Regions from separate parts of the Homo sapiens genome. Here all the other regions are linked to region 1. The links come from fine-mapping of genetic effects on gene expression. A gene starts in region 1. Each other region holds a variant in brackets. All regions are shown on one strand. Distances are from middle to middle. Region 1 holds the start of OR6K3 (olfactory receptor family 6 subfamily K member 3). Region 2 has its middle 7.8 kb from the start of OR6K6. Region 3 has its middle 20 kb from the start of OR6N2.

The links.
Region 2: its variant is fine-mapped to the expression of OR6K3 in whole blood (TOPMed, PIP 0.98).
Region 3: its variant is fine-mapped to the expression of OR6K3 in whole blood (TOPMed, PIP above 0.99).

Annotation. Positions count from the first base shown.
Region 1 is chr1:158,716,174-158,727,546 of GRCh38, reverse strand. It overlaps OR6K3 (olfactory receptor family 6 subfamily K member 3), which reads left to right and starts at 6,827. Exons shown (of 2, transcript NM_001005327.3): 1 at 6,827-6,864; 2 at 9,415-11,220. The coding sequence starts at 9,432. The coding sequence ends at 10,379. It also overlaps the pseudogene OR6K4P.
Region 2 is chr1:158,741,236-158,752,608 of GRCh38, reverse strand. It overlaps the pseudogene OR6K5P. Among named protein-coding and RNA genes, the nearest start is that of OR6K6, 7.8 kb to the left of the region's middle. The variant G/C (reference allele first, on the strand shown) is at 4,790.
Region 3 is chr1:158,795,161-158,806,533 of GRCh38, reverse strand. It overlaps a transcript of OR6N1 not described here and the pseudogene OR2AQ1P. Among named protein-coding and RNA genes, the nearest start is that of OR6N2, 20 kb to the right of the region's middle. The variant A/G (reference allele first, on the strand shown) is at 4,576.

The DNA of each region.
Region 1 (11,373 bases):
AAATAAAATAAGATAAATATATATGTATAAGATAATTACATACTAAGAGAATGTATAAAATTCATTCTGCTGTGCCTTTGAATATACTCTATTTCAAAACTTGCTTTTTAGATTTGAGATTTTTATTTTTTTACTTTGTTATGGATTTTCTCTGCTCATAAAGTAATAAAAGTAAATTATTTCCTCCTTAGTCAATGTTTAAATTAAACTGGGCTCCAAATGATATCAAGATTTGTTTATTTTTGGTTTAGCTTGCTTACATTTTTGTTTTGTCTTGTTTTGTTTCACTTTTCTGCCTATGTTTAATATCTCTTCTCTAGCTAGTACTTTCCTCAGAGGAAAGTCAAAAGAACTTTTCTTGTTGGTGTCCATTCTGCATCAACAGATTTAAGGTCTAACTCTGTGACTGTCAATACTCAAATTATTATTTATTGGCAAGCTACCTTACAATGTAGCAAAAGCCTGTTTCTATTTGGTCCTCAGATCAATTTCTTTGTTTTTCTCAGTCAATTCATCAATGATAACCAGTTTGGAGTAAGTGGAACCTGCTAATTTTCTAGCATCCAGCATCCAGATTCACAAATTCAGAATTATATCTTTAAAATAATAAGGATATGGAAAAACATGTGAATTAACTGTTGGATTGATCAACTTTCTCATAAACATTTTTAGCAACATGTTTTATATACTGCATAATATCAAAAAGCTACTAAACATGAGTGTTTTGGTAGTCTGGCACTACAAGAGAAAAGTTGAAGCTCACTCTGAAAGATTATTTACCAAAGTGAAACAGTTAAGAGAAGCAGGAAGGGATAGATAGATGATAGATGATAGAGAGAGAGAGAGAGAGAGAGAGAGAGGTAGATAGATAGATAGATACATAGATACATAGATACATAGATAGATACATAGATAGATAGATATCCATGTGCCGGATGTTCCATAAACAACAAATAAATCAATGACAATATCTGTAGAGCAGTAATATTTTTGTTTGCAACAATCTTACTTTGTGAAAATCTGACAGATGCGCATACATAAAAACAATAAAAATGTCCTAATTCTCTCTAGGCACTTGATTTTTCAGAAGCTGCCAAAGTAGTATTTGTTAAACTTCGTTAATATAAACTTTCTTGATAGAATGTGTTCAAGATGTATATTTTGTTCTGTAATGAGATATCTGACAAATACCAAAATGTACCAAATGTTTTTATTTCCTTGATCTATGTTTCAAATGCCTTGTTTTAATTTGAAACTTCAAATATTATTTCTTATTAAAATAACATGAAGTTTTAAATTCATGATTTATAAATAATTTAAAAAATAGTATTAGCTCAGGAAAAATATTTGCTCTCTTCATGGAGAAATGCTGGTGTACAGCATAAGCAAATGTTCTTGTCCTCAGACATTCATTTTTACCCCAAAGGAGATATTATCTTTCAAACTTCCTTTGTGTTCTAAATCTCTCTCCTTAACTAATTTTCGATCCATCTGTTAGGCTAGCTTCTGAATGGCCTGGACAATAAGCCCTGGGTGCAGCTGATGAGTTTCTTGCACTACTTTTAGGGATAGCATCTTTATATTTTATGCCACTTTTGAGGGACATGGTATCAAGAGACCTAAATTGTGCTGGAATACCACATTTTGGCCTTTGCCTTCTTATGGTGATGGTCTTTGTCAGGATATAAACAATCTGAATCCCGTGACTTAGATATTTATAAAAAACCTCTGCTTCTTTTCAGTATTTGTCATGGACAGACGCTTAACATGACTGACAGGATACCAAATCTTCCACTGCCGAATTTCTCACTGATCCCTTCTTTCTGTTCTGGTCAATTTCTGGTGGCTTAATTATTTTCTGCTGCTGAGAATAGAATTTCCTACCAAGGCTTTACCTTCATATTTGTGCCTGAAAACTTTACTCTCTTTTCTAGCCACACTCAGTGTCACTCTGTGGTGCGATAAAGGAGCAGAATACTAAAAACTAAAAATATTCAGGAAAATGGAGAATACAACTTTACAATAATTATATAGAGAGAAAGACAACTAAAAGTTTTGTCTAATCTGCATCTAAGAACCATTAGAAAATTTATATGGTATATGATTCAAAACAATTTGGGGAATTATTATAAAAGATTATTAACACCTTTATACATTTACTTTAGTTTATATAGTTTATAAATATGACATTCTTAATATCTTATTTTCTTATTGTTGGTATCCTTCTTTTGAATGTAAGCTTCATGAATGTAGAGATTATTTTCCTTACTGCTGAATTCAACAAACCCACAGCTGTGTTTGGTACATAGTAGGCACTAAATGAATATCTGTTTAATTCATAAATAAAGAGAAGTACATGATCCACCTAAAGCATATTTTTCATTTGACTTTTATATAAGCTAACACATCTGACTTTGTCAATTTCTTCTAGGAAATGAGCTGTGTCTTTCTATCCATAGCTGTTAAGGTTGCTGAGACCATGGTGAGTATTAACCAAACTGCTACAGTAAGTAACAGAGTTTCTCTTCTCTGGATTCCCACAGTTTGAAGATGGTAGCCTCCTCTTCTTCATTCCATTGTTTGTTATCTACATATTCATTGTCATTGGGAATCTTATTGTATTTTTTGCAGTCAGGGTGGATACCCGTCTCCACAACCCCATGTATAATTTTATCAGCATTTTCTCATTTCTGGAGATCTGGTACACAACTGCCACAATTCCCAAGATGCTCTCCATCCTCATCAGCAGGCAGAGGACCATCTCCATGGTTGGCTGCCTCTTGCAGATGTACTTCTTCCATTCACTGGGAAATTCAGAGGGGATTTTGTTGACCACCATGGCCATTGATAGGTACGTTGCCATCTGTAACCCTCTCCGCTACCCAACCATCATGACCCCCGGGCTCTGTGTTCAGCTCTCTGTGGGGTCCTGCATCTTTGGCTTTCTTGTGTTGCTCCCAGAGATTGCATGGATTTCCACACTGCCCTTCTGTGGACCCAACCAAATCCACCAGATCTTCTGTGATTTTGAACCTGTGCTGCGCTTGGCCTGTACAGACACGTCCATGATTCTGATTGAGGATGTGATCCATGCTGTGGCCATTGTATTCTCTGTCCTGATTATTGCCCTTTCTTATATCAGAATCATCACTGTAATCCTGAGGATTCCCTCTGTTGAAGGCCGCCAGAAGGCCTTTTCTACCTGTGCCGCCCATCTTAGTGTCTTTCTGATGTTCTATGGCAGTGTATCCCTCATGTACCTGCGTTTCTCTGCCACTTTCCCACCGATTTTGGACACAGCTGTTGCACTGATGTTTGCAGTTCTTGCTCCCTTTTTCAACCCTATCATCTATAGCTTTAGAAATAAGGACATGAAGATTGCAATTAAAAAGCTTTTCTGCCCTCAGAAGATGGTTAATTTATCTGTAGATTAATGCTAGCTCATAGGCACCTTTCACTGTGGATGTTACTCTAACACAATAAACCATATAATTAACATATAATTCATTCATTGTCACATGGATATTTTGTGTCTCTTTATACTGGTTCTTCCCATGTACATGTATATCCTGCTTACACATGCCAAATTAAGATAGCATGGACTACCTGTCTAGACTTATACAGGTGGGTAAAATATAGAAAGGAAATATGATGTTTAAGCCATTAAACATAATTAATATGTTTTATGAACATTAATTTATTATTTGTATATAAACATTTTAAGTAAATGCTTATTACATTACATAAGCATTAATAACAACTATGAATTACGAACCACAGTAGTTAAAAGAATCAGATCTGCAGAAGAGGTTAAGGTTTGTATTTCAGTGATGCCACATATTGCTTTGTGACTTTGAACAAGTTGATAATTAACTTGTCTGCATCTTAGTTTTATCATCTATTGGTATAAAAGTAATATATTTTAAAAGTAGGACTTCAAATGCTAATATGAATATTAAATGACTTACTCCATGCAAGTGCAGAGAATGTGCAAAACACAGAGCTTGTGCAAAATAAGTGTTATCTGTTAATATCATTTGCAACTAATTACTATCTTTTGTTATTGATGTTTTAGAGAATGCTTTAATAAAGAGTGATATATTAAAAACAAAAACTCATGCTTAGGAATACTTAGCTATGATTATTATTTATAGTATATTTGTTGTTATTATTTATCTGGAGCCAAGTTGAATTCAAACTTCATTTACTTAGACTGCTTTGGTTGAATTCATCCAATTTGGTTGAATAAAATTATTTGGTTAAAAGTAGTCTCCAGCACATTCCAAAGTGATAGATAGATAGATAGATAGATAGATAGACAGATAGGTAATAGAAATATATATCATTTGAACTACATTACTCTTGTTTTCACTTTTGCTGCCTTTAAAATGTCTATGCATTGCCACTAGAAATTAATTTTCTAAAATTCAAGTTTAGATTTGTGTATTAAGATAACAGTTTAAACACACATATTTAAATTTTCTTCCACAAAAAACTCAATAGAAATAAAAGAGTCAGGACTAGATGAACTGTTAGATGACCTAAGAACTGAAAAGTGTAAAGATATAGTAATGAACATTAAAATATCTATAAGTTTACCTAAAAACCTTCATGATAGCTATGTCAGTACTCTGAAATATTATATACCACTTTCTTTTTTCTAGAAAAGAAAATAATTTCTGTTTATATCAAAAGCACCAGTTGATTCTGTTTATTGGATAGTCCAGGAATGAACAAAAATATATATTGAAAATTTAACAGCAAAAAACAAAAATCAAAATTAAGTTAAACCAAAGCATTATATATCCTGGGGAAAAGAGTTCCCACAATTGACCTCCAAAGTTAAAACACTTCCTCAGGTATGAGTACATGAGATCCGACTGAGGGAAATACTTATCTGCCCGGTGTTGGACAAGAAAACAGAAGAGGAGAGCCTAGAAATTAACTGGATGAAATTCCACATACAACCGATGGAAAAAATAATTAAAGCTTGGAAAAACAGAAATTGAGAACGATGCTCTACTTGGGAAATCTGGATAGAGAGAATGGAGCCAAAGAATGTATGAAATTTCCCAGTCACAATGGAGTTATCCACTGAGCTGTGTTCAGAGAAGGACATGAAAAGTAAATCTTAAATTTACAAGCCAGAGAAGTGAGGAACTATCCAGGTAAACTGAGGCTACTAAAACAAAACAAAAAAGCACAACTTTTTAGCACAAAGCAATAATCTATAACTAATACTGAACTTCGTGGCAGATATTTCCATATTTGCTGTGCATATTTAGATATTTAATATTCTTATTTTTTGTATCCAAATATATTCTCTCCTTCTCTCTCACACACACAGACAAACACAGATTGCCTTCTTTAAAACAATGATTTTAGTTTTGCCATACACCGTTTGTATTAAAATCATTAACTTTGTCAAATGCATAGCCCAATAAGTAGTTGGATTACTACAGTTAAAGAGAGAGAGAGAGACTGAGAGAGACAGAGAGGTTAGGGAATTGAAAGTAAATGCTCTTTCATTACATAGACTAACTCTAAGACACAAATCATTAAAATGTTTCCTATTTAAAATTTTGATGAGATTTGTGAAGATATCAGAAAAAAAGTTGAGAAATAAAAAATACAAAATTTAATATACAATGGAGATATTGAAGAATATATTAAATACTACAGGAAATTAAATTAATGTTTTGTAAGATTGCCTGGAAGATATGTCCCAGAATTTAGAGAAGCCACATGAAGAGCCAAATATTACATGCAAAGAGAAAAAGTTATATATGGAGAATGTATTAATAGATATTACAGAGCAAAATATGATTATGAAAATTCTAGAAAAAAAACAAAACAGAGGAAAATAATAAGTAAAATTAAAGGAAAATATTTCTGAGCTTGAGAATACTTGAGTCATGGGATCAAAACAGACTGTTTTATATTATACAAAATCATTGGAAATACAATGTGGCCTGTTGACATTTTTGAATTAAAAAAAACCTACAAGTTAGACAACCAAAATAGGCTCCCAAATCGTAAGAAGAAAAGTTAGACAAAACTCAGAAAGCACGTCTTCCTATTTGAGAACTTGATACATATTTCCAGAAGAAGATGACATGATAAAAGTAATTAACTTTGAAAAAAATGAGAACTTTGCAATTTCAACAGATCAGTGGATGAAGCACAGATATAAATAATACTCTTGTAGAAAAGATGAGATATTGATCTTCAATAAAGAAGTCAGCAGAACCAGTGTGAGTTGTTCAAGGTAGGAAAGACCCATACACACTCACGACATGAGAAAAACAAAAAAAGACATGGTTTCCTCACTTTCTTCAGTATTGGCACTAAATCCCCAGTGCCATGTTTATTATGAAATGGCCTTATTTTCTGTAAAATAGCTTTTCAAGATGATCTTCTGGTGTCAGTATATTCCTTCCAGGCTTTCCAAATCTGTGTGTTCATATAAGAAGGCCAGGATCATGTCAAAACTACCCTTTGCATAGTACACTGGTACACTCAAGAACAGCTGAGACAATCATGAAAGTGCTAGAGAAGGAAGCTTACAAATTTGGGAAGATGAGTACAATCAGGAAAAATATATATATTTATTGACAACTTCGATCTGAAAATCTAACAAAAGGAGAGTAAGAGGGGAAACTTTCTGTTAATTAACCCCATGAGAGAAGGTGATTCACTTCAGTGCAGTGGAGGGGAAGAATCCTCCACAGAGCCCAGTTCCCTTTCCTGTTATTCCCTGGATGCCCTATGGAGAGACTATAAATCCCTTTTTGAAAAGGCTGAAGTAATATTAAGGATGCAGTGACCCAGGCAGACTGAGGAGTCCCTGTGTTTTTGGCAAAGGTGAGTGTAGATGACTAAGTCATAAAGAGACCGAATTCATTCACCATGCATAATCATCATCATCATCATCATCTCATAACCTGAAGACCTGATTATTAAAGAATTTAGAACTTTGAATAAGGGTGGAAGGCAAAGGTATTTACAGGAGGAAGCTCTGTTCAGTGTGGTTCTGGGCATGGGTATATATGAAACAGCATGCCACATTTATAATGCCATTTTCTGAGAGATCATCTAGTCAAGACTTGATTGAGGCTCTCATTAGAACTGAATTGTCATAGTTCCCTTTTCAAACAGTCCCCAATTTTCTTTGTTCACTTACTCATGGCTGTCTTGTGCACTTAGTTATAATTGTACCAAGTGGCTGAGTTCCAAGTTAATTTATTTGATACCTACCGTCTCTACATATTAACCCTGTTGTAGTCACTATGAGGGATAAAAGACATTCACTGTCCTGAAGGAGAAACCTATAGTCTAGAGAAGGTAAAACAAGTAAGTTGATGATGGATCCTGACAAACGCTTCAATAAAGCATAATGGCATTCAACACTTCCAAGTGTTTCCTATATTCCTAACACTAAGGTTTTAAAATACATTTACATGTATTGGTAGAGGCAGTCAACTGTATGTAGGTTAGAATGTGTCTCTAGAGATACAGTGCATAGATTTAAATTCTGACTTTGCCCTGCATTAGCCGAGAATTTCTGGACAAAGAACTTAACCTGTCTGTGCCTAAGTTTTCTCCTCTGTAAAATGGGGATAATCATTTCACCTCATTAGAGCATTAAGAGCATGAGGTGAAAAATATATACAATGTGCTTGGAATAGTGCCAGCATTAGTGACGTAATAATACCGTATACTATACTGTACAATTCTATTGTTATTATAAAATGTTTAGTTATTCTCAGGACTTCATTAACCAGTATTAATATTTTCTCAGTTTTACAAATGAGATATTAAAGGCATAGAGAAGCTAAGTAACTTCATGTTAAGTCACAGAGCTGGTAAGCCATAAAGAGAATTTAAATGCTAGCAATTTTTTTTCTGGCATCTAGACTTTTAACCAGCAGTATATATTGCTTTTGTGTGAGGAGAGGGGGCAGAGGAGGGAGAGATATGTTACTTTAAAGTCAGAGGAAGTAGCACAAACAGGAGAGAACTGTGATTTTAGAAAGCAACATGAACAATGGGATTGCAGGGGAGAGAGGAGTCGGAGAATGTTAGCAGGTGAAGCTACAGAGAGTTAAGAGTCAGATAGTTGGTGTGAAGCTTATGAAAGAGAGATTGGTTAGAGAAAAACATTTAGAAGTATTAATAGTTTAAATCCTGTAAGCGGATGAGATCACTAAGGGAGTGTATAAAACTATAAGAGGTTGAAGTGGATGATAGGAACCTGGGGAAAATAGACTCTTGGGAAAGAATTTAAGAAAGACAACACAAGCTAATATAAGAGAGAAGAGGCAGAATAAGAAAGAAAATATAAATAAAATAAATAAAACAGAAGCAAAAGTCAAAGCTAGAACTGCCTTTAAAGCTATCTGGGCGTCACGTCCCTTGAGAATGGAATCGTGGAAACAGAGGAACAAAGTCTCAAGCAGGAGTAATGAAAAGTGTCGAGTGCCAGAGATGACTGGATAGTTTCCATTAGTAATTAGCAGGGCATTGATGAACGTGATCAGTATAGTATCAGCATAATGCTCGGGAGGAAGCACACAGCAGTGTTAAAGGAGAACAAGAAATGCAGAGAGGTAGATTGTATCACTCTTTCCAGAAGTTGCCTATTAAACACTGTCCAAATCTTTCTGCAAGTATTTACTAAATCCTACAGCATCCTTGTTAGATAGGTACTATTTTTAATCCCATTTTGCAAATGATTACCTGATACTCTGAGGTATTAAGTAATTTTCCAAAAGACATATAGGTAACAATAGACAGGATTTCAATGTCAACTTCAGGTTTACATTGTAACACGTTAGAACAGAGATTTTCAAAGAGCATGTGCACAATGGCCCAGTCGGGTAGGGAAAGAGCATAATATAACTTCTGTTATGTTTATTCGTATTCATACTTTTTAATTTTAAAATTTATTATATGAGATACAGATATATAATTTTGTGTTATTATGCCTTAATATAGTAAATGTGTATAACTTATAAATGCAAATACCTATATTAGAGATTAAGCTAAAATAAAAATAATTTTAACTAGTTTTTTTATTATTAAAACATTTGGAGACCCCTATTTCTGCAGTTGTGCCAATAAATAAGATGTACAGCTAAGCAACTTTGAGGAATAAGAAGAACTACCTTGAAGGTTTCATTTTTTTTTCTGACTTTAAACTAGTGTACATATTGTCCAATGTTTGATACAAAAAAAAATGTTTGATATGAAAAAAATCAAACATTGGACAATATGTACATGAGTTTAAAGTCAGGAAAAAAAATGAAACCTTCAAGGTAGTTCTTCTTACTTCTCAAAGATGTTTAGCTGTACATCTTATTTATTTTTTTCTCTACCCTCTCATGTGCTGGACTATGCCCTCTCCATTTACAGGTAGCTCTACTAGAAATATGGAGAGCGGAAACCAATCAACAGTGACTGAATTTATCTTCACTGGATTCCCTCAGCTTCAGGATGGTAGTCTCCTGTACTTCTTTCCTTTACTTTTCATCTATACTTTTATTATCATTGATAACTTATTAATCTTCTCTGCTGTAAGGCTGGACACCCATCTCCACAACCCCATGTATAATTTTATCAGTATATTTTCCTTTCTGGAGATCTGGTACACCACAGCCACCATTCCCAAGATGCTCTCCAACCTCATCAGTGAAAAGAAGGCCATCTCAATGACTGGCTGCATCTTGCAGATGTATTTCTTCCACTCACTTGAAAACTCAGAGGGGATCTTGCTGACCACCATGGCCATTGACAGATACGTTGCCATCTGCAACCCTCTTCGCTATCAAATGATCATGACCCCCCGGCTCTGTGCTCAACTCTCTGCAGGTTCCTGCCTCTTCGGTTTCCTTATCCTGCTTCCCGAGATTGTGATGATTTCCACACTGCCTTTCTGTGGGCCCAACCAAATCCATCAGATCTTCTGTGACTTGGTCCCTGTGCTAAGCCTGGCCTGTACAGACACGTCCATGATTCTGATTGAGGATGTGATTCATGCTGTGACCATCATCATTACCTTCCTAATCATTGCCCTGTCCTATGTAAGAATTGTCACTGTGATATTGAGGATTCCCTCTTCTGAAGGGAGGCAAAAGGCTTTTTCTACCTGTGCAGGCCACCTCATGGTCTTCCCGATATTCTTTGGCAGTGTATCACTCATGTACTTGCGTTTCAGCGACACTTATCCACCAGTTTTGGACACAGCCATTGCACTGATGTTTACTGTACTTGCTCCATTCTTCAATCCCATCATTTATAGCCTGAGAAACAAGGACATGAACAATGCGATTAAAAAACTGTTCTGTCTTCAAAAAGTGTTGAACAAGCCTGGAGGTTAATACAGAGCCACAGGTTCCCTTCCGTTGCTTTTGTTTTGTTTTGTTTTTTGAGATGGAGTTTCACTCTTGTTGCCTGGGCTGGAGTGCAATGGCATGATCTTGGCTCACTGCAACCTCCACCTCCTGGTTTTGAACAATTCTCCTGCCTCAGCCTCCCTAGTAGCCGCGATTACAGGCATGCACCACCACACCCAGCTAATTTTTGTATTTTTAGTGGAGATGGGGTTTCACTGTGTTGGTCAGGCTGGTCTTGAACTCCTGACCTTAGGTGATCCAAACTCCTCTGCCTCCCAAAATGCTGGGATTACAGCTGTGAGCCACCGCATCTGGCCCTTTCCATTGCTTTAATGTTTGTCTAACATATTAGAACATGAGATTACTCTATACCTAGTGCTTTGTCACACTGAAATTTCTGTCATCCTAATTATTTTCCCTATACCTAGAAAAATATTTATACTCTCTGTGTCATCGTTATAAAAGTTGCTGTGCATATCATGAGGAACCTTATTATGTGGCTGAATAACTGTAGTTTCTTTCTTCTGAAATGCTGTGGTTAAAGAAAATTTGTTTGCCACTTTAGAGGGTTAGAACTACAGAGCTTGAGCTTCAGAAGCTGACAATGTGCTCTGTGGTAGTATGTGTCTATTTAGGTAACACATCTTAGAAAAGTTTTTTTGTTTAATTATGAGTCATGGATTACCTCATTGGGGTTTTCCAGAAATAGAGATCTAAGAAAAAGCCCAAACAACATTTAATTAAGTTATATCTTTATTTTTAGTTATGTAGTTACCTATTCATTAGAATAATTACATGTTTAGTAAGATTAGATTATTAGTACTGCCACACATGTTTAAAAGAAAACTACAAGATAAGATACTATTTACAGTAATATACTTTGGTTTCCACAAATATCAATTTTAGTTATTGTTTGCCTTTTCCAAGGTTAAACATCTTCACTTTCTTTATTTACAGTAAAAAATATTTGGTGTATTCA
Region 2 (11,373 bases), 25 kb before region 1:
GAATATATTGCCAGTATTGACGGTAGCAGTGTGGCCAGGGCAGGAACCAGGGACAAGGGGGAGCCCTGCGCCTTCCGAGTTGGGGTGGGAGCACCCCAGGGTGTCGCTGCAAGCCACTGTTGCAGACCCAGGCATCCTTGTGCTCTTGGGGCCAAGGAGAAGGTGAGAGCCCCATCCTCCAGGCGCAGCTGCAGCCACCCAAACCCAGGCTGTAGATCTGGGCCACCTGCTCCATGGAACTGGCAGAAGCCCCACCCAGGAGGTTCGGGCTACAGCCACCCAAGTCATGACTGTGGATCATGGCCTCCCACTCCTCCATGCAAGTGTAGCCACCCAAACCACGGCTGCGGACCCAGGCACCTCTGCGCTCCTGGGGTCCTGGGAAGGTCCCCCTTCTCTTGCAGGTTTGAAAGTGCCTGCTCCTGCTGCCTGGCTTCTCCCTGCTGTCAATGTCCACTCCAATCTAGGAGCAAAGTAAGGGCTGAGACCCAGTCCTATTGTAGTCTGTCCAGGTATGCACATGCTACAAGCAGTGCTGATACACCAGCCCCTTGATGCCTTCTCCCTCTCCAGACTTTGGGCACCAAGAAGCATAGGAGGGAAGCCCAGGGGGCACAGAGGGCATCTCAGAGCTGGCATGCAGGCCCCCCTTCACACCTACAGCCTGGGGGCCATGAATGGCAACAGAAGCAGACAGATTCCTGGGCAGAAGGGGGCAGGTCCCTGGTAAGGTCCCACATTCAAGCCAGGGAGGGCCTGAAAACTGGGGGCTGGGGTACCAGTCCCTCAGACCAGAGCGGGAACTTACAGTGCCCAGCTAATTTTTGGATTTTTAGTAGAGACGGGGTTTTATCACATTGTCCAGGCCGGTCTTGAACTCCTAACCTCAGGTGATCTGCCTGCCTCGGCCTCCCAAAGTGCTGGGATTACAGACGTGAGCCACCATCCCCGGCCAGGGAGTCTCTTTTTTGTGCTTGTAAAGCATCTAGTGCCTACACCTGTTGTTAAAATTATCTAGTTATAAGTCTAGATTCTAAGAAATTTGATGATTATCTATCAATATTAATTTATATTTTAACCTTTAATGCATAGCCCTAAGACTTACCTAAACTCAGGTAGTGTATGTTTAATAGAAGACGATCAACTAGGATTTTGAGGTGATAATACAAGATCCATGTTTATAGATTATTTAGCACATACGCCTGGCTTCAATCATATGGCATGTGGAATGTAATAGGGAAGAGACAGAACTGGAAGGTAGGGTTTGGCAGAGTGTGGAGGTCTTTGAATGTCAGACATTGGGATTTTGAAAGCATATTTTTCACATAACGGAAAGTTATGAGATAATTTTTGAGTTGGAATTAATGCACAAAATTGCGTTGATGATATGTAGAATGCATTTAAGTAGAGAAATTATGGAAGTAGGAAGTATTATTTATTCAACTCACATTTACTGAGTACCTATCAGACATCAGAGCCTATTCTGCAATAATCTGGAGTAAAGGCCTAAAATAGAACTGTAATAATGGAATTAAAGGACAGAAGAGATGGGAGTAATTGTGAATAAAGAATCAATAGGACCCGACACCTGATTATATTTGTGCTATGATGGTAAAAGGAACATTAAAGGTAACAGATTCATAAGGTTGAGTTCGTCTGTTAGATGGCACTATCGACAGATATAGGACCAGCTAAAGCAAAAGCTTGTAGGGGCAATTATAAGAAGATGAGTTATAGATATTTTATCTTGAAAATGTGAGAGAACTTTTAAGTAGAAATGTCTATTTGCCATTAATGATGAAGAATTGGATTTCAGAAGAGATGACAAGTCTCTTCTTGGACACATCTGTGGACACAGATGTCTGTTATTTAAGTAGAGATTATAATTGAACTATGAGAATGCACTAGATAATTGAAAAAGAATTTAGGGAATATGAGAAGAGACTGGAGGATTACAATAGGTAGGTGAGAGAAAAATGGTATTAATAGTAAATAACTTTCATTTATTAAATATGTGACAAAATCTGCTAGGGCATTTTTATATTTCATCTCATTTTATCCTTTCATAGTTCTGTAAATTAGTCATTATTATTTCCACTTAACAGATGAGAAAACTAAAGTTTAATGACCATGTATTTTCTCTGTAGTCAGGTAGCTAAGCAGGTGGCAGAGTAAGAATTTGAACCTAGGTCTATCTTATTGTCTTATCCTGAAGAGTTCAGGAAACGAAGAGAGAATCAAGGCAATGATGTATTGCAGAAATCAAATGAGAGAATTACAGGAACAAAGAAACAATCACTGGGTGAAATAGGGAATTCGACTAGCTTTTTCTTTTTTTTTTATATACTTTAAGTTTTAGGGTACATGTGCACAACGTCATCATTTTTTATGGCTGCATAGTATTCCATGGTGTATATGTGCCACATTTTCTTAATCCAGTCTATCATTGTTGGACATTTGGCTTGGTTGCAAGTCTTTGCTATTGTGAATAGTGCTGCAGTAAACATACGTGTGCATGTGTCTTTACAGCAGCATGATTTTTCTATTATTATTTGTAACACTCAGCAAATAAAATTTAAATATATTATATAATATATCTTAATCTCCATTAAAAATTATATACATAGGTATGTATATATACCTATATAAAGAGATATATATTTAAAAATGGGTGTCCATCATAAAAAGTAAAACTTTGAAAATAAGAAAAAGAAACACACAGCATTAAGACCATAAAGAAGAAAGAATGAAATTAGTTAAAGATGATATAAAATTTCCAAATGAAAATAAAGACAAATTATAACACAAAGTTCAGCAAGTGCATAGATACAAATGGATATATTTAACATTGCATTATTATATGTAACAGTTGACAAAAAGTGTAATAAAAAGATGCCATTTGAAGTATCAACAAAAATAAAAAACTGTAAAAGATATGTTACATCTAAACATAGCACTTTATAAAACTGTATTGGACTATATCAAAAACATAAATAAATTGATCCATATGCTGTATGAATGAATAGAATGTCTCAGTTACATAAACATGCCAATCATCTACAAGTCAATCATTTCAACCCAATTTCAATCAAAATCTCATTTTGAGTAGAGAGGAGTGGGATATGTAAGAATGAGGGCCAAGAAGAAGACATTTCAAAGGAGGAGATTAAAATGGTGCCACTTGTCTATTTAGTAAAAGTTATTATGAAGCAATATTTGTAATAAAATAGCAGTGGGAGTAAACAGCCAATGGAAGCAAAGAAATAGACTAATATAGTATGGGATTTTAACATACGTGAGAGTAGGTATAGCAGACCACTGGGGAAAAGATGAACATAGCCAGCACAACAGGTCTGTGGAAAAAGGTGCATTGTTTAATCAATTGTATTGGAACTTTAGTTAAAATTTTTCAATTCCATATAAATATAAACCATAAATTTAAAGACTGATGAATAAAACTATTTAATAGTTCGTTTCATCAAATAGCATCATTAAAAAGAAAAACAACAAGATATACACTAGGAGTCTGTATTTGTAATAACGTTTATAACTGATTATTTTTATTTAGAATATACAAAAAGCTTCTACAAAGTAATAAGAAAAAGATAAACAACCAAATGAGGAGTACACACACACACACACACACACTCACACATACACACATACAACATTCAACTGCAAATCAAAGCAATAGCATATTGTTTACACAACAACTGAGTAGCAAAAATATGACCACCCAGAACATTAGAAAAGATGTGCAACAATAAAAATGCATTTATTGTTGGTGGTAGACAGATTCTGAAAAACAATTTGGCAGCATCTAGTGAAGTTGAAGATGCAAATATTCCAGAATACAAAACGTTGAAGGCTAATGAATGATTAAATTGTGCTCCATTTATACAAGACAGCAGGGATTTTCTTTTAAAGTTGCAGCTAGATACATTGATGTGAATGATTCTCAAAACATATGTTGAGTGAATAAGCAAATTATAAAGTAATGCCTAAAATACCATTCTATTTACATAGAGTAAAACAGAACTAAACAGTATATTGTTTTTGAGTGTGCACACATGTGCTAAATAGAATAATAAACACAAAATTCAGGTGAATGGTAATATGTAATATGGCAATAAAGAACTGGATTGGGGAGGAAAGTGTAGTGGTCTTCAAAGTTATTCATAATATTCTATCTCTTAAGTGGGGTTGTAGGTTCATGTGAACAAGAAGTGAAAAGGTGGAGACAGAAATACTGATAAAAGAGTAAACTATGCTTTTAGGAAAATAAGATCGGGAAGAAGAAAGGCAGTATGGCAGACTTAGAGCAACAATGAAAATGAGAAAGAGTATATACTTTAATATGTTTGAGCATATTCATAAGCTATATAAGCAGACTAAAAAGAGGAAAATTTGGAGGATACATAGGTAAGTGAGACAACTGAAGGAACAGTGTCTCTGCATGAGATGAGATAAATAGGTTCAAAGCGTAAGAGGAGGAATTTATCTTAAGTGGTAAGACTGGATAAAATCAGGGTCAAAAAGTAAACATCAGTGTGGCTACAAATTAGACTATCTTTGAGTCACTATCTGATTCTTTAGCTATTCGCCGATTCATTTAATTATTCGTTTATTTAGCTACATATTCCTTAATCGAATGCTTATTGAGGGACTGTCTTTATTTATTGTTATTGTTTTTTATTTTTATTTTTTAGAGACAGAATCTCACTCTATTGCTCCGGTTGAAGTGCAGTGGCTGCTTACAGGGGCGATCACGGTGCACTGCAGCCTCGAA[G/C]TCATGGCCTCAATCAGTCCCCCTGCCTCCACTCAAGGATCTGCCTTAAAAATCGCCTATTAAAAATCTAATCATTCAGAGTCGAAAGTCACCTCTGCTCTGACTCATTTTTCGCACCATATATGCCTGTGTCTCATAAGTTTTTTTTTTCTAATTTCAAATATGCTTTCAAATTCTGTTGCATTTCTATATCCACTGCTACTGTTCCACTAAACATTTAACACTTCGTGATTGTTTTATATCTCTTTTTGTGATAGAAGAAAAAAATCTTATGTGTTGTATATGTCTATTTCTTCTGCCTTTACCCACCTGGAGGTTAATATTAAGTCCAATTTCAGTTTTTAAAAAGTAGGAAAAAAAGAATTAGAAAAGTATCCTTCTGCTTCTATTTCCTGTCCTCTATATGAGGGCCCTTTTTTTTTTTTTCCTCAGGTCTGTCCAAGGTCTAGCTCATGTGTGCTCATCAATACAGCTTTCATGTAGCAGGAAAGGTTGCCCTTCAATCCTTTCCTGACTCCATACACTTGGGATATCTGCTGCTGGAACCCCTGAAACCCATGAAATCTCATGAGAGCCCCCTCATTACTGCCACTACTGCAAATGGCCCTGTGATCCCTGGATCCTTCTGAAGAAATTCTACTAAGCTGTGCTGGATGGCAGCTGGCTGAATCTTCTGCAATACACTTCAGGGTTGTGCTGTGTGATCACTAAACTGCTCCAAAGAGTAGAGAAAATTCTCCTGCCTTTGAACCACATTGCGTTAGTTTCATTCCTTTTGTTCCTTATCCTTTCCCTTTCTCAGCAGATTTTGTAATTTAAACTATTCTTTTACCCCTTGGACAGAATGGAAAGCCAAGTACTCTTTTCATCTGATTTCTAGCCTGACTGAAAAACCTAGCTTCCCATAGGTGTGTTGACCTCATGAAAGGGGAGTGTGTCAGCAAGTGTTTTCCTAATTAGTCTCATGGGGCATAGAGTTGCTTTTCCCTAAGCCCCCCAGGAAAGAGCCCTTTAGAAGAAAGCCTTTCTCCCACTTAGCAATTCCCTGTGATGCTTAGAGGTGTGGCTGTGGTTACAACCTTCCTACTTATTGGGCTGCAGAGCAATGAAGATGGAGACATTTGGAAAAGAGGAGGTGGCTCTGTTGGTTTCTGGAAGAGGTAGCTATGGACTGATGGGTGGACTTTCTACTTTGAGATATGAGTGAATGACTTTGTTTACTAGATATTGGGGGACAATTTTCACAGAACCATATTATTTCCTATTGGACTTTAAAGAAGGACTTGTGGAAATTTTGTTGAGATTGTGACAACACATGAGGTAGAGGAAAGGACCATAACTTAGGGATGGAGGGCTTTGGTGAGTGTTTGTCCTACAATTAGAGATTGCCGTAAGATAACAAACACCTGGACTAAATCTGTCAAATTGTGTCTGGCCCACTAGCTCTATGACTCTTTCACAACTCTACTATTTTCTGAGCTAAATTCTAATCTAGGTTTGTATTGTATTTAGTGGCATCAGGACAGGCTCTTAAGAATAAAGGAATGTCAGGACAACTAGTGGAGCTTCTGGTTGAGATTCTGGGGTATCCATTCCTACAGAAAATAGGAGAGTCCTATTAGGTATAACTTTGCTCCCAAGACTCTATATCAAATTGCCTTCCTATAGGCATCCTCTTTCCTTCTTAAAGACTCAAGTTCCTAAAGACCTACCTTTTTAACAAAAATTTCCAGATTTCAATTTTCTAATTCCAAACGGTACTGGACATAGAGCTTAATGCTTCTTTCCCTGTTTGTCTCCCTACTGCCTCTGTAAGCAGAACACAGAACAATTACACGGGTATCATTTTCTATCATACTAGGAAAGCCTGTTGGGGATAATACAGTCATAAGATATTGGGATGACAAAATAATTTTACAATCTCATATACAGCCATATTATCTGTTCTGCTTAAAGGCTCAGGTTTGATTTGGAACCCTACAGAGAGCCAGTATAAGGTTTTCAGACAGAGGATTGACAGCTTTGCATTTAGGAAAGATTATTTCAGTAGCTATGTGAAAGTGAGATGTAGTAAGACAAGTCTGGAAACAATAAGCCCAGATAAGAGTAATTAAGGTAAAAATTGCTAGAGTATAAATTATTTTTTATGAGCCTCCATTTCTTATGTAAAAGTTTTCTTAAAGAAAAACAAGGGAATTTTCACCTCATATTTTCCTGTTTCAACATAGACTTACTATTTTGCTGTATGTATAAAAAGCAAGAGAAAAAAAATTGTGGTTGCCATATGCCAAGCTGGGTTCTTACTTGTGTATAGCCTCCGGCATTACGGTTTCCAAATAATTTTATCTATTTATTGTATCCATTGGCAGTTCAGAGTTGTCTGACTTTTTTGGTAGATATCAGTAGCTTTCTCCATTTAGAGGTCCCATCTTCACCTCAGTACCAAGTGAAGAGTCAGAATTCTGCCATGCAAACAAACGTTTATTAGCAAACAGGCAAAAACATACTACTATTAGGCCTTTTCTTGGAAGCTCATGGAAGTCTCAACTCTTTTTCCTTATGCTTTCTGGTTAGTATAATAAATGAAGGTTTCTATCAAAGATAAAATGTAATAAAATTCTCTGCAGTAGAAAAGCTAACTTTCTAGTGAGATTAGGTGATAAATACCCTTTTAAGGAGGGAACACAGGAATGAATGGATCATGTGCCTATTGCACCTCTCCAAGCTCTATAGGCTGCCTAGCTCATCCTGTTTTATATCCCTGCAAGCCAGAGGTTAGGAATACTTTCAGCCAATCAACGTATCTTGATCACCTGGTTTTTCATTAAAAAAAATTTCTGTATGCCAGTGGTTCTTAACTGGCACAAATTTTCTTCTACTTCTTCCCTGCAGGGACATTTGGTGATTTCTAGGATGATTTTGGTAGTCATGACGAGGGAGGGGTCTATGCTACTGACACCTTATAGGTGAGACCAGGGGTGGCTGCTAGACATTCTATAATGCACGAACAGCCTTGCCTTCTCTCTGAGCAATGAATTGTCTGTTTCAAAATGTCAATAATGCTGAAATTGACAAAACCTGCTTTACATTATTTAATAAACTCTACAGTGTGGATACAGATAAGAATATTTGAAGCCCTTGTCAAAACTGCCTCTTGAGGTAGACTATTGATTAAAGTATTTCAAATGTTGCAAATTACACCTAGAATGTAATTTCTAGATTAGCTCACTTCAACTATTAACTAACTCCCTGTGATAGTTAATACTGAGTGTCAACTTGATTGGATTGAAGGATGCAAAGTATTGATCCTGGGTGTGTCTGTGAGGATGTTGCCAAAGGAGATTAACTTTTGAGTCAGCGTGCTGGGAAAGGCAGACTCACCCTTAATCTGGGTGGGCACCATCTAATCAGCTGCCAACGTGGCTAGAATATAAAGTAGGCAGAAAAACATGAGAAGACTAGACTAACCTGGGCTCCTAGCCTACATCTTTCTCCTTTGCTGGACCCTTCCTGCCCTCAAACATCAGACTCCAAGTTCTTCAGTTTTGGGACTCGAACTGGCTTTGCTTGCTCCTCAGCTTGCAGACAGCCTATTGTGGGACCTTGTAATAGTGTGAGTTAATATTTAATAAGCTTCCCTTTAACTATATATATATCTCCTATTAGTTCCGTCCCTCTAGAGAACCCTAATACACCCCCTTTAGAGTGTAGATTAGATTAATTTGTATACCCATATATGTCACATGAGATTAGCCTCTTGTGTCTTAAAGTAAATAATATTTGGTGGAATGTTTGGATTTTTTCTTTTCATTCAATTGTTAATAATGAGTCAGACTAAGGGAAGCTGCTAATCATACTTTAGTTTCAAACATGCGCACTTAAAAATGAGTTTATTCTTATCCACAGAGGGTATCATTTTGTCATGACCCATTCTTCTGTGTCCCCAACACTTCATCTCAAAAAAATGAAAATGTCTACTTACTTAAATTGTTCCTAATTTACTGTTATAATAAATGTTCTAGCTAATATTGTCATATATTTCTTTTTTAATATCTGAAATATTTCCCCTAGACTACATAGTGAAAGGCTTAAACTCTAAACAGTCTTAAACTCTCAATATAAATTGCCAAATTGCCATTCAGGGGAGTTTGTACCAATTTATATGTCTAACTAGCAATACTGTTAGCTTATCCAACAGAATAATTGACAACATAAGTTATTATAATTACTAAATTTGACAGGATAACTTTATATGTTGCAAAATGACTCACATAGTATATTTTATTTAACCAGCCTAATTTCAAGGCTGTTTAGTTGCTTGAAAAGAAGGTTTTTATTTGTTCTTTGCATGTACTTAGAATGTTGACTGTGTTTTATGAGCCAACAAGTGAAACCGCTGAAAATATGGATCCAGAGAATCAGACAATGGTGACTGAGTTTTATTTCTCTGATTTTCCTCAATCTAAGAATGGCAGCCTCTTATTCTTCATTCCTATGCTCTTTATTTATATATTCATTCTTGTTGGAAATTTCATGATTTTCTTTGCTGTCCAACCGGACCCCCATCTCCATAATCCTATGTACAGTTTTATCAGTGTCTTCTCCTTCCTGGAGATTTGGTACACCACCGTGACTATCCCCAAGATGCTCTCCAACCTTCTCAGTGAACAGAAAACCATCTCTTTCATAGGTTGCCTCCTGCAGATGTACTTCTTCCACTCACTCGGGGTCACAGAAGCCCTAGTCCTCACAGTGATGGCCATTGACAGGTGTGTAGCCATCTGCAACCCCCTTCGCTATGCAATCACTATGTCCCCTTGACTGTGCATCCAGCTCTCCACTGGCTCTTGCATTTTTGGCTTCCTCATGTTACTGCCAGAGATTGTGTGCATTTCCACTCTTCCATTCTGTGGCGCCAACCAAATTCATCAACTCTTTTGTGACTTTGAACCTGTGCTGCAGTTGGCCTGCACAGATACGTAAATAATTCTGGTTGAAGATGTGATCCGTGCTATTTCCATTCTGACCTCTGTCTCTGTCATCACCCTTTTCTATTTAAGAATCATCACGGTGATCCTGAGGATTCCCTCTGGTGAGAGCCGTCAGAAGGCTTTCTCCACATGTGCAGCCCACATTGCTATTTTCTTGCTGTTTTTTGGCAGTGTGTCACTCATGTATCTGCGCTTCTCTGTCACATTCCCACCATTACTGGACAAGGCCATTGCACTGATGTTTGCTGTCCTTGCCCTACTTTTCCTTTTTTTTTTTTTTTTTTTTTTTTTGAGACGGAGTCTCGCTCTGTCGCCCAGGCTGGAGTGCAGTGGCGGGATCTCGGCTCACTGCAAGCTCCGCCTCCCGGGTTCACGCCATTCTCCTGCCTCAGCCTCCCAAGTAGCTGGGACTACAGGCGCGCGCCACTACGCCCGGCTAATTTTTTGTATTTTTAGTAGAGACGGGGTTTCACCGTTTTAGCCGGGATGGTCTCGATCTCCTGACCTCGTGATCCGCCCGCCTCGGCCTCCCAAAGTGCTGGGATTACAGGCGTGAGCCACCGCGCCCGGCCCTTGCCCTACTTTTCAACCCAGTAATCTATAGTCTGAGGAACAAAGATATGAAAAACGCCACCAAGAAAATCCTCTGTTCTCAAAAGATGTTCAATGCCTCTGGGAGCTAATGGAGTTCACACACACCTCTTCAAAGAAATCTCATCATCTCCTTAAGTTTAAAATGCTAACAAATCAGTTTTTTAAAATTACCACGCACTTTTTCTTTTTTTAACGAAATTATTTAAAGACATTTTGGCATGTATTTTCAAAGTGAAGTATCTCTTTAATGATTTTTAATATGAATAACAACAGTACTAAGTTTTGTGTCTATCATTTTAATTTATAGGTCTTGTTTTTCTAAGACTATAAGTATGATTTATAAATGTTATTACTTTTGCTTGAAAAGTAAGTTAAGCTGTAAAAACAAAAACAAAATAAGTACGTTAAGTTTTAAAGATATTTAAATGATTGTAAAACCTTCTTATACATGTGTCTACATTGTTCTCTTTTCCTGCACTCCACATTTCTTTGTGAAAATCTGTATTCATCTGGTGTCATTTTCCTTCCACCTGAGAAGCTTCCTTCAACTTTTCTCACACTGTGGGTCTGTGGATGATTAATCGTTTTTGTTTTTGTAAGTTTCAACAACGCTTTGTAAATCTGAGCAAGTATTTTATTTTGTCCTCATTTTATAAGATGTTTTTTTCTGGATATAGAAGTCCAAAATATAAGATTTTTTTTTCTTTTTTTCCATGAGTTAAAGATGTTGTTCTGCTTTGTTCTCACTTGCATTGTTTTTGATGAGTAATCTGCTGACATCCTTGCTTGTGTTTCACAATATGTTATGAATGTCTTTTATCATCCCTTTTATTTTTTAGTTCTCATTTATAAGTGGGAGCTAAACATAGAGGTTACATGGACATAAATATGGAAACAATAGACACTATGGACTATCAGAGGTTGTGAAGGGGTGGGTAAAACAACTACCTATCAGGTAATATGCTCACTACCTGAGTGACGAGATCCGTACTCCAAACC
Region 3 (11,373 bases), 79 kb before region 1:
TGTGATCATATGCAATACACTTAAATTCCCTCCACCTCAGTTCCCTTACATGCAAAATGGGGACAATAAAAGAACGTTAAGCATGTAAATATTAATCATTGTTACTTCAGAGTTTTCCACATAAATGTCTTCAGTGGGGATTTATTTCTTTGATAATGCTTAGTTTTACAGCTATCTCACATTGTTATTACAATAGACTTGGTAACTCTCCAAATGAGGCATCTTCTTTTGACCTAAGGGTCCAAATTTATCTTGTCATAAACTGAGTAGTCCCTGCTTTCAAGAAGTCTATGCTGTTTCCCAAATACATGGTGCAAAACTCTATTCTGCTGACAGTCTGAGTCTACTGCTTTTGGGCTCCTTTTCTTTCTCTCCTTCTGCACCTCACTTCACTCAGACTACTCTTTTTGCAGGAACTATTATGGGCCCAACAGAAACTCTTTTTTCCCTGTGGTGGCAGCACTAGAAGATGGCTTAAATTGAAATGGCTTAGATCACATTAATTAATAGGTAATTATAGTAATAATAATTACTAAAACTGTTATAGCAATTCTTGATAATTACTAATATCTGTGGGGTGCATACTGTGCAGTGAACATGGGGGACTTACCATCCTGTAGTGAAGACATAAGCAGTCATCTAACAACTCAAAGTGGCTTATATCTCACTATTAATTTGTACTACAATGCATGGTATCCACTCATATTTGAACAAATGAATGAATGAACAAACTCTTAAGAGTCAAATGGGTGTGATAGAGATTGAGTTCCCCTCTTGAAACTCCACCAGAAGGTATTTTTTTAAGATCCATTTATAGCTGCAAACTCCCCTTGCCTTTCATTCTGTACTCTATTCTATATTCTTTTTTTTCTCTTGAGACCTCCTTGGGTATTTCCTTTAGAACATAAAGTTCAGGTCATCTTTAGCGCAGAGCTTCTCAACAGATATAAATAACAGATGTGCTGAGTTACTGAGTCCTTGCCCCTAACACACACCCTATGAATGGTCAGATAGGACCTAAGGGAATTGAAGTCCTTGGACTGGTTGCCTCAAGCAGTAAGTGGCCTTTCTGTTCACCTCAGTGTGTCCTACAGATACCATCACTTTTATAAGCGCTATGATATGAAAATAAAAGTTTGAGAAGTAGTGCCTTAGTGTGACATATTGGGGTAAGTGCCCAAGGTGAGGTCCAACTTTTGGCCACTTCTCCCATGGTGACAATTGGATATTGACTCTAGCAACATAGACAGTAAGAAGCAGTCACGTCTGAAAGGCAGCATAATCAGACCATTCACTTGGTACTAGCATCAAGGCTGACATTCTGTCATACAGGACATTCAAACTCAAGTACATCAGAGAACAAAATGAAATACTATCAATGTATCCAGTGACAACAGATATAAACCACAGTTGTACTGGGCAAACAAGGGCATGTGACCTTGATGTATCACTTCATTTACATAGTTGTTTTAAAAGTTTATTTGCTTCAATAAATAATATCTCTAAAAGGTTCAAAAATTCATCTTATGTGTGAAGTTGAAATTTTTTCTTACATGTTTAAAAAACTTATATTTTAAAAAATAATCAGGTGATTTGAGGATCTGTCTCCTCCCACTCTATATAATAAATATCTTAAGGGAAGCAACAGTGTTATACGCATCCCATTTTCTCCAGTTCCTAGAATAAAGTCTGGGACATAAAAGCTGTTTCAAAAATGTATTAAATAAATAGATAAATGAATTATTGTGAATTTCCCTATTTCTCACATTATGTTAGTTGCATTTCATATCATTTTTTTCCTAACATTTACAGCACATTTTAAAAATAATGTATTACATATAAATATAGGACATTAAATGTTTAGGTAAATAAAAATTTAAATTACTTATAATCCCATTACTTCAAAAATTATTTCTCTATTTATTTCTAAATTTTAGTAAGCATATGCTGTTTTTCCAAATAGTAGCAATGATACTATGAAAATTTGAACATGCTGAATACTACTTTTATCACTTAAGCTTTTAACAAATAATTTTAGATCTCACCTTTCTCCTCAAATAATGAATTGCTTGATGAAGATATCAGTGTAACCACAGAACCAGTTCAATCTGGTTTAACTTTGTCAATAACAAAATACAACAAAATGATGACTTGTTTTTTAGTTGCAATGGACCCTCAGGTTGTATGTAACCCAAGTGTGCCCAGATGAACCAAGTGTGCCAGATTTGTGACCCTGGAGCCAACCAGAACAAAAAAGTAAACCACATGCAGAACCTAAGTATTCAGACCAAAGGATGGTGATCAAATTAAAAAGGAAAGGAGACCTGTTTTGTTGCAGCACAATCCTAAAAGTCAAGGACCTGGCATAATCTCTTCTCAGGAACCAATCAGATAACGCTTTGTTGCATTTTCCTATCTCCCTCTTAATTGCTCTCTGCCTATAAAACCTGTCCCCAGACCTCAGTTAGGGGAGACAGATTTGAACATTGCCTCCTGCCTCATTGCTGGTCAACCTTGAAATAAGGCTTCTTCTTTCTTAAAAACTGGTGTCACAGTATTGGCTTCTAAGCTCATGGGACAGTGAACCCATTGCACAGTAATACCAGAACTTGTCATTTTCCCTCACTCTATTTCTGATACAGAATAAATGCCAAGTAAGCACTCTTTACTGACAAGTGGTGACATAAAAGAGAAGAAACAATGTTCTTGACTAGGCAAGAACTAAACTTGGAAGCCTTGATTGTTTAGTACGCATATCTACACTAACTGATTCTAGGTAATGTTTACAATTCTTATGCTCAGGTATTTGTCATGTTGATAGCCTTCTGAGGGATCATGCATGGGCATTGTAATTTATTCAGTCAATGCCAAGCCATACAGGTATACAGTTAGACAATACAAATGATGCAGAAAGTCTGTCTCAGAGTCTGGCTCACAAGAGGAAAAGAGGAACGTAGGAACACCAATGTGATGTGATATAGGGAGGAATAAAAATGAGTATTAAAGTGGCCACTTTGAGTACAGCACAATTATTCATTTGAAGAATTGGGATAGATGGCTAATCTATATATCCATGAAATAAAAATGAAAACAAAAGATCTGTTGGTGCTTGAGACTGTGGGAGATGCAGTAATTTAGTGAAGGATAGTTTCAACTATCCATCTTTGTGAAAGGTTAGGTATTTCAGAGTAAGTGGGACATAAGCTAAATGCTGATTAAGGTTGAATGAGACCCTCATATTGTCCAAAAATTTGAGAGACTCTTTCAATCCCAAAGTCACATTAGTACTCTCAGAAACAAATATCTTCCTTTCCTTTGGCTCAGAAACTTTCCGTCTCCTACAGGAAAGCTTTTCCAATTTGAACTCAGAACACTTAGTATTTTTCTTCCGTTTAATATGATTTACTTGTTAATCTTTTTATGGTTACCTCCGTATCTTAAATTTAATATAGCAACTGCTTTCTTTCCACCTGATTCTGAAAAATAAAAGTACATTTGGGGCTATGAATGATTCAAATACCTTACTTCTGATAGATAAATGCTGTAATTCCATTATTCATCTGGACTCCATATCCATCTAAGTACATGCCCACAGAGAACACACAGCTGAGATAAGAGTTCAGATGTCAAGATTAGGATGTTGATGAACATATTGAGGATATGGATATAAGTAAAAGTAATAATGAAAAAGTAGATTAGTCTCATGAAGATGCCTGGGTAATAATAATGGTAGTGATAATGTAAGTAATGGTAATAATACTGGTGATGGAGACTTAGACAAGTGTATTAGGTATTCAACATCAATCATTTGGAACAATGGCTAAAGATAGCTGACATGGCAAAGGGAGGGACAGTGGTGAGAGTAACAAAGGTAGAGATGGTAAGCGCAAAAGTGATAGTGGTGCCTGTGCTGTGATAATATGGTGATGTGGTGAGGTTAGTAGGGATGGATGAGAAATCTCCTTGCAAAAAAAGCTTTTAAGATGAAACTCACCTCTGGGGTGCTAAAGATGTGATTCTTCATGTATTCAAGTTGGATTGTCTCTTCTCATGAAAAGCTATGACGGGGAGGCCAAGGCGGGTGGATCACGAGGTCAGGAGAGCGAGACCATCTTGGCTAAAATGGTGAAACCCTGTCTCTACTAAAAAATACAAAAAATTAGCTGGGTGTGGTGGCACATGCCTGTTGTCCCAGCTACTTGGGAGGCTGAGGCAGGAGAATCGCTTGAACCTGGAAGGCAGAGGTTGCAGTGAGCCGAGATCGCTCCACTGCACTCCAGCCTGGGTGACAGAGCAAGACTCCGTTTCAAAAAAAAAAAAAAAAAAAAAAAAAAGTGCTATGAGGGACTTGCAGAACTTCTAGAGTCCCAGAAGAGGCAGTGTCCCTGGGATTGGATTCTAGAGCCAGTGAGGGTTGCAGAAAAGCCATTTGAAAGAGAGTAGGGCTGCTTTACTTCTCTGTGTCCAACTTCCTACCCCAGAGGAGCACTTACAAAAAACTTTACACACTTAGCAACTCCAGAGAACATATAGCAAGGAGCCCCTGGGAGGTCAGCATTTCCAGGAACATGAAAT[A/G]TAAGTAGGGGAGTGTCTTGGGGTAGAAAAGATGCAGAGGAGGATGTTGTAAATTCTAATGTCATCAAAACCATCAGGTAATGGGCAGGGGTGGTACAGAAAAGATTAGAGTATCTAAAAAAGAGAACTAGGTAAAGGCTTTGATCTTTCCCAGATAAGGACTATTAGAATATGGAAAGAAAACTCCAGGGACATTGATATAGACCACCCAACTCCATATCCACCCTAGAAACATTTTTCAATGGCTTTAGAGATCCACAGACTACCAGGGTGGTGAGGGGCTTTATACAACATTTATATAGAGAAGGGGAAGTTGAAGTAAAGAAAGGAGAAATGGTTAAGCCCAATGTTCATTTTGAGTTAGTGGCAAAACAAGTTTACAAAGTCAATTTAGAAATAGAATGCTTTTTCTGTTGCGCTACAGCCCTTCTAGACCAACAATATAGGGGCCTTAGCTTACCAATTCCTCTCTCTCCTCATTCCCTTTGAGAATTCCTGATGCATGTCTCCCTTAGGAATCCTTCTTTAAAATGTACTTTGTCTGTTCATTGATTCTTCATGTAACCCTGCAGTTCTGACTTTGACAGATGGGACATTTCTTTAGGGACTAGATGGATACTTTTCTGTCTCTCCTGTTTTCTGGCAAGGTGGGTGGGAAAAAAACCCCGGCATTTAACAATTTTGTTTTAAGGAGCCAACCCACTCTCTCTCTCCCCACCGCCACCCCCACCTTTTTCTCTTCTTCACATACACACACAGACAGACCACACACACACACACACACACACACACACCAGTATGTGCAGCAACATACTGACTAACACCAAGAAACAGACTTTTTTTCATTTTGTTCTATGTACTTTTGTGATGATGGGAGGTCATGAAAAGTGGTGGGAAGGAGTGCATGGATTGGTGAGAAGTGAATGAGCAAAACAAAAGAAAGTCTCATGGAAGTGTAGAAGTGTATTGTGATCTCTTCTCATGCCTTAGACTTTAGAATGCTAACTGGGCACCCAGTTGCTACTTCTCTGAAGGTTCTCTGAAGACCAAGCGTGGAACTGTAGGATCCTACTAGGAGATTCCCTGTCTGAGGATAACATAGCCATAGCTTATTGAAGATACAAAAAGAAAACTTATTTTTGAAATAAAAACTCTCTGGACAACCTTTTAAAATTTCTTTTTAGTGATAGCGTAAGTTTTGGGTTTCCTGTTTTTGAAAAATGATGTTGAAATGCTTTCTTTCCAAATGCAGGGATGACTTTGTATTTATTTTAGCTTATTTTAAGAGAAAAGATATGTGTAGAGAACAATGTGTGTGGAGTAGCATACAGCAGCATTATCTCCCTCTCAATTTAGTAAATTTGACTAAGATCACAGAATGTTCTGGGGTCCCCACCTATTAAATGTGGATAAGTTGTCCAATTTGAGGTTTTTCTATGGCAATATACCCTCAGGTAAATTTTCTCTGAGCATCCAGCTCAGATACGGACTATATTCTCTTTTCTGACATTTGGTGGATCCTAAATAAAGGCAAACCAATTTTAATATTGTCAAACCTTGAAAATTAATGTTGTGGAGAAAAACAACAACAGCAAAATAGTAGAAATCAAATCCTTGATTTTTTTTTTCTTTCCTAGGTAAAAGCAACTTTTCCTTTGTGGTATGGGGTAGATAGGTTCAACTGTTGGGGTAAGCCAAGACAACTTTTGAAGACTTGCTTTGAGCAAACACCATTTGCAGCTAGGTGAATTCCACCAGGAAGTCACTGAGAATCATTGAACTTCTGATTTAAACGGTGCTTAAGAAGTCATCTGGTCTAAACCCCTCTGTCTTTACAAAAACATAAAACTGAAATCAAGAGGTAGGGAATAACTTAATTAATTAAGGTTACATGGCAACTTAGAAACAGACTGAGAATGGGATAGCACCAACGTTTTCTAACGCTTTCCAGTATACCTTTTGGCTTCTTTTTTTTTTCCATTTTATCTGAAGTAGAAAGCCTCTGGCACCAAGCACCATGCAACACATGTAGGCGGGAAAGCAGATACAATGAGTCATAGACTTCTTCTAGGGCCCTATCTTCCCATAGAGTAACTCATATCTGTAGACAACATGGCTGGCTGTGGAGGTTCACAAGTCTTGTCCAGCCACCCTTTCTTCTCTCAGACTCCTGCAGTCTCAATTTTCCTTTCCAGAAGTAAGTTTGGGTTTCATACTACACAAACCATCCCATGATGTCGCTTAATTTTGTGATCCTTGATTATACAAGGATCCCTGACTACACAAACATACGATTTATAGTTGGATGTCCTTTGTCTATTTTCTCATTAAATCTCCCACAGAAGGTAAATAGATAAATGTCTTTTCAACATTAGTTAGTAGGTAGATTCTAAACTTAATCCAAAAGATTTAACTTTCATTTAAAAACCAAGAGGATCTAATCATGTTGACTGAGTTTTCACCCTCCTTACCATCCCTGACAACTGTGGGTTTTTAGAACATATATGATCCCACAAGTCAGCCTACATATGACCTTTCACTTGAATGACCTTCTACTTAAACGTAGGCTAGAGAGAGAAAATCCTTTTAAACACGATTTATATGAGCCTGCAGAGTAATTATTGGGAAGGTATTTTTTGTCTATGTTTATTAAGGTCTAAACGTAATGCCAATATTTTATGGGTACGTTCGTCATTTCTTTGGCTAACGTGGTGAACAAATCATACAGTCTTTTTAAGCTTTCTCCAAACATTGACTAGGTGTGAGATAAATGGGGATCAAGTCACCTGGAATCTTCTCAGGTAAAAACTTTAGCAATAGAAAAAGATTTTTATTTTAATGAGAAGGTCTATTTCAGATCAACTAAATTAGATACTTTGAAAGTGGGGTCTAGTAATTGGTGTTTTAATAACTTCAGGATGTTATGCATGCAAGTTAAAGTCTGAGAACCAGCCGTCTACTCCAATTGGTGGGACTGGAAGGGGGAACTGGGCATATGTAGCACAGTTCTTTCCTGTGCTCTTCTCCCAGGGAGCCAGCCTGCCCGGTTTGTGTGTTCTGCTCTGCTTTCTGCCATGCAGTGGAAGGAGGTCTGTGGCTTTCCATGCTGCACAGTAATCACGTAAAAGCACTGTAAGGAAAATTAACACGCCCACTATCAGAGTAAGACATTTGAAATCTCTCCCCTTAGGAATAAAAACACCAGGCAAATAAATCATAAGTATATATATAAATTATTTGTAGAATAATTAACAAGGTCCACCTACTGGAGGCACATGGAATAAAGATTGATTTCAAGCACAGTGGAATTAAACAAATGCTTGGCCATAAAACAAGTGTCAATACAGTTAATAGAATTAATAATATTAATATAATATAGACCTCTGCTTCTACTAGTGATATAAATAAATTAGAAATAAATAAATGATAAATTTCACATGTCCATATGTTTGATATTTAAAGAAAATACTTCCATACAACTTACTCTCAGAAGTATCATAGGAAAAGTAGAAAACATCTATATCTGAACAATAACAAAAAGTATAATTTCAAAATATTTGGGAAAAAGTGCTTTTTAGAAGTTTATAGCCTTAAATTTAATATTATTTAAAAAGTATAAAATTAATTAACTAAGCATTCAAGTTTAAAAATTAGAAAAATAATGTTAGGGCAAAAAAAGAAAGTGTAAGAAAAAATCTGGGAGCAGAAATTAATACAATAAAAATAAATATATGACAAAAATGATATACTAATAAAAATGTTGGTTCCTAAAAATAAAAATAAACTCCTGACAAGACTAATAAAAAATAAAGGAGAGAGAGGGGCAAAAATAAGAAAGATTAAGAATGAACAATTGGCAGAATTACAGATGCATCAAAGTTTAAAGTTATAATAACATATTACTAATAATATATGCCAGTTAATTAAAATTTTAAATTGGCTGGATTCATTTCTAAAAAATTATAAATTAGAAATATCAACATCAGAATTAATATAAAATCTAAATGATATTAAATTAGAAGTTAAAAAATCACTAGAAAGAAAACATCAGTGGCAGCTTGCTTAATAAGTGAGTTCTATCTAATATTGACGAAAAACATAGTTCCTATTTTTACATTCTTCTGAGAATTAAAACACTGGCAATGCAGCTCAACAGTGCATTTTACAAAGATAGCCTAACAGTGATTCCAAAATAAATAAAACTAGTAATGTGAAAAAATAGATGATAATATCATTCATTAACATATATGCAAAAGTCTTCCTCCAAATATTCCTAAGCTAAATTCAATAATCCCAGTTAAGAACAAAACAAGATTAATTACCAATATTACTTTTATTTAATATTGTACAGAAAAAATATGACTTAGGTCACCAAAATGATAGAGTAGAAGCAACCTGGCTCCACTACCCTCGATCTCATAGAAAATAAAAAACAAACAACAAAATATACACATACAGTGCAGAAATTATCACTAGCAATATCCCAGAACCCAAATAGAAGGATGAGATAGTTTCTGGGGTTGCAGAGAAGTAAAAACGCTGTGCAGAGGGTGATAGAATCGGATTTTTATAAGTATAACGCTTTCCCCCCGATTTGTCATGAACCAGGCATTTGGGAAATTTCCCCTGATTCACAGTTACTACATTGGAAAAGGTAAGTTCAAGATGGACAGCCAGCTTTCTCAACATCTTGGGTTTCCTGGCAGGAGACCTGTTCCTGCCTCAACACACAGAAAGGTGCACAAGTACTTGAATGGAGAAAAATTCCTGAAGAATGACAGAGACAAAGGGGGCAGGTGGGGCTAGCAGCATCCCCAGCCTGGGAAACTCTCTGTATCTTGGCTGAAGGAGTTGCCAAATTAGAGTGTTCAGTAGAACCTCACTGTAGGAGGTATGTTCTGTTAGTCTCTTGGGCACAAAATCCTAGACAGCTTTCCCATTCTGCTGCATTATCCCCTTTGGGACCTCCCCCATCCTGGACAGGCAGCACTCTGAACACCTGCTAAAACAGAGGTAAACCTGGACTTAGTTGCCACTTAGTGCTGAAAAGGAGGCAGTGACCTACAAAAAAAAAAAAAAGGTAAGTTGTAAAGAAAACGCTAAGCAAACATATCCAATAAAAACAAAAATATATCAGATAAAGGAGACTGGAATAAATAATTTTTCAATTTAAAGACAAATGTACATACACAAACAGAAAATCATGAGCTCCCCAAATTGACAAAGCAAGGAACCAGTAACCAACACTAATAAGACAGCAATAGGGAAGTTCCCTGATTAAGAATAAAGAGAAGTTTTAATAAAACTCAAAGATATTCAAAATAATACAAAAAAGCAATTTAGAAATGTATCAGAAAATTTTAACAAAGAAATTGAAATAGTGAGAAACAAATCAAATAGGAACCCTGGAAATTAGAAGTATATTTGCTAAACTGTAAAATTCTTTAGAGGCTCTCAACAGCGGAATGGATCAGGCAGAGGAAAGAACCAGTGAGCTCAATGACAGGGTGTTGGAAAATACACAGTCAGAGAAGAAAAAAGAATGAAACTAAATGAAGGAAGCCTACAAGACATAGAAAATTACCTCAGAGGAGCAAATCTAAAAAACTGAAGTTCAAGAGGGAGCTGAGCATGAGCAAAGAATAGAAAGCTTAACAAAAAGATAACTGATGTACTTTTAAGGTACCAAATAAGACCCCTCCAGGTTGCCCATGATTATGGAAAACTCTGAAGCATACTAGGTCCTTGAGCTGTCCCTTTGACTCTAAGTACTTTCCAAGAAGCCCCTTTTACATCCTTGTTCCTGAGGCTGGAGATGATGGGTTTTATGAAGGCAGAGACAATGCTGTAGAACAGCACCAACTGTTTTCCCACTGTAGGTTATACTAGGAGTCAGACCTCAAGTACGTGATCATGGCGGGCCCTTAGAACATGGTGACCACACTTTTACTTTTTTTCCATGATGGCAGGTTGAAGGCATTGTTAACGTGATTCTACCACTTAGAAAGACAAAATGGTGTGTAGAGATTCATGCTGTGGACTTTTTTCCAAGAAGCAGCACAGGAACTTAACAGGAAAACTGAAAGAAGCCGCAAACTCTGTGAAAGAAGTAGTGTGCAGCAGCCTACACTGTGAACCAGACAGAAAACTGAGTCTCCAGAGCATAAGAAGTGGGGAGACCGCTGTCATGACACACATTCCCACAGTGGGGAGACTGTTGCCATAACACACATTCCCAGAGGGGAGCTGGGCAATCCAGGCCATGGGGGAAGGCCTTATCCCTACTCAATGCTGGGGCTGATTTAGGGAGCAGTGGGCAAAATATGAGAAGGAACAACATGGGGACATACTTTGCATGCACTCCCAGATGCCACTGGAGATGGAGGGAAGCCATTCCTGATCCTACCTCACAAGGGACCTTGCAGAAGTCTACTGGCATCAGGCAGTGGTCACAGGTTGAGAGAAGCTCTCAACTGAGATTTGCAGTATAATCTGAGTAGGGGTGAACCACAGTGGCCAGAACCAGCAAGCAAGTGAGAAGTGTGCTACAGACATGGGCACAGAAGCTGGATGCCCCTGTGTTATGAGCAAACCAGGAGGGGTGTGGCCTGAAAGCCATGATTTCTGTCTCCCTTGGGAAGGCTTATGGTTTGGGGCATAAGTCTTCTGAGTGAAGGCTGCCTGGAACTCAGCTAGCTGCTGCCAGCAAAACACTGTGTATGTGAGACCTGACCTGCCAAGTGTGTGAGAGCTAAGTGGGGCTTATTTCCACTTACTACACCCCCCTGCCTGTTTGGA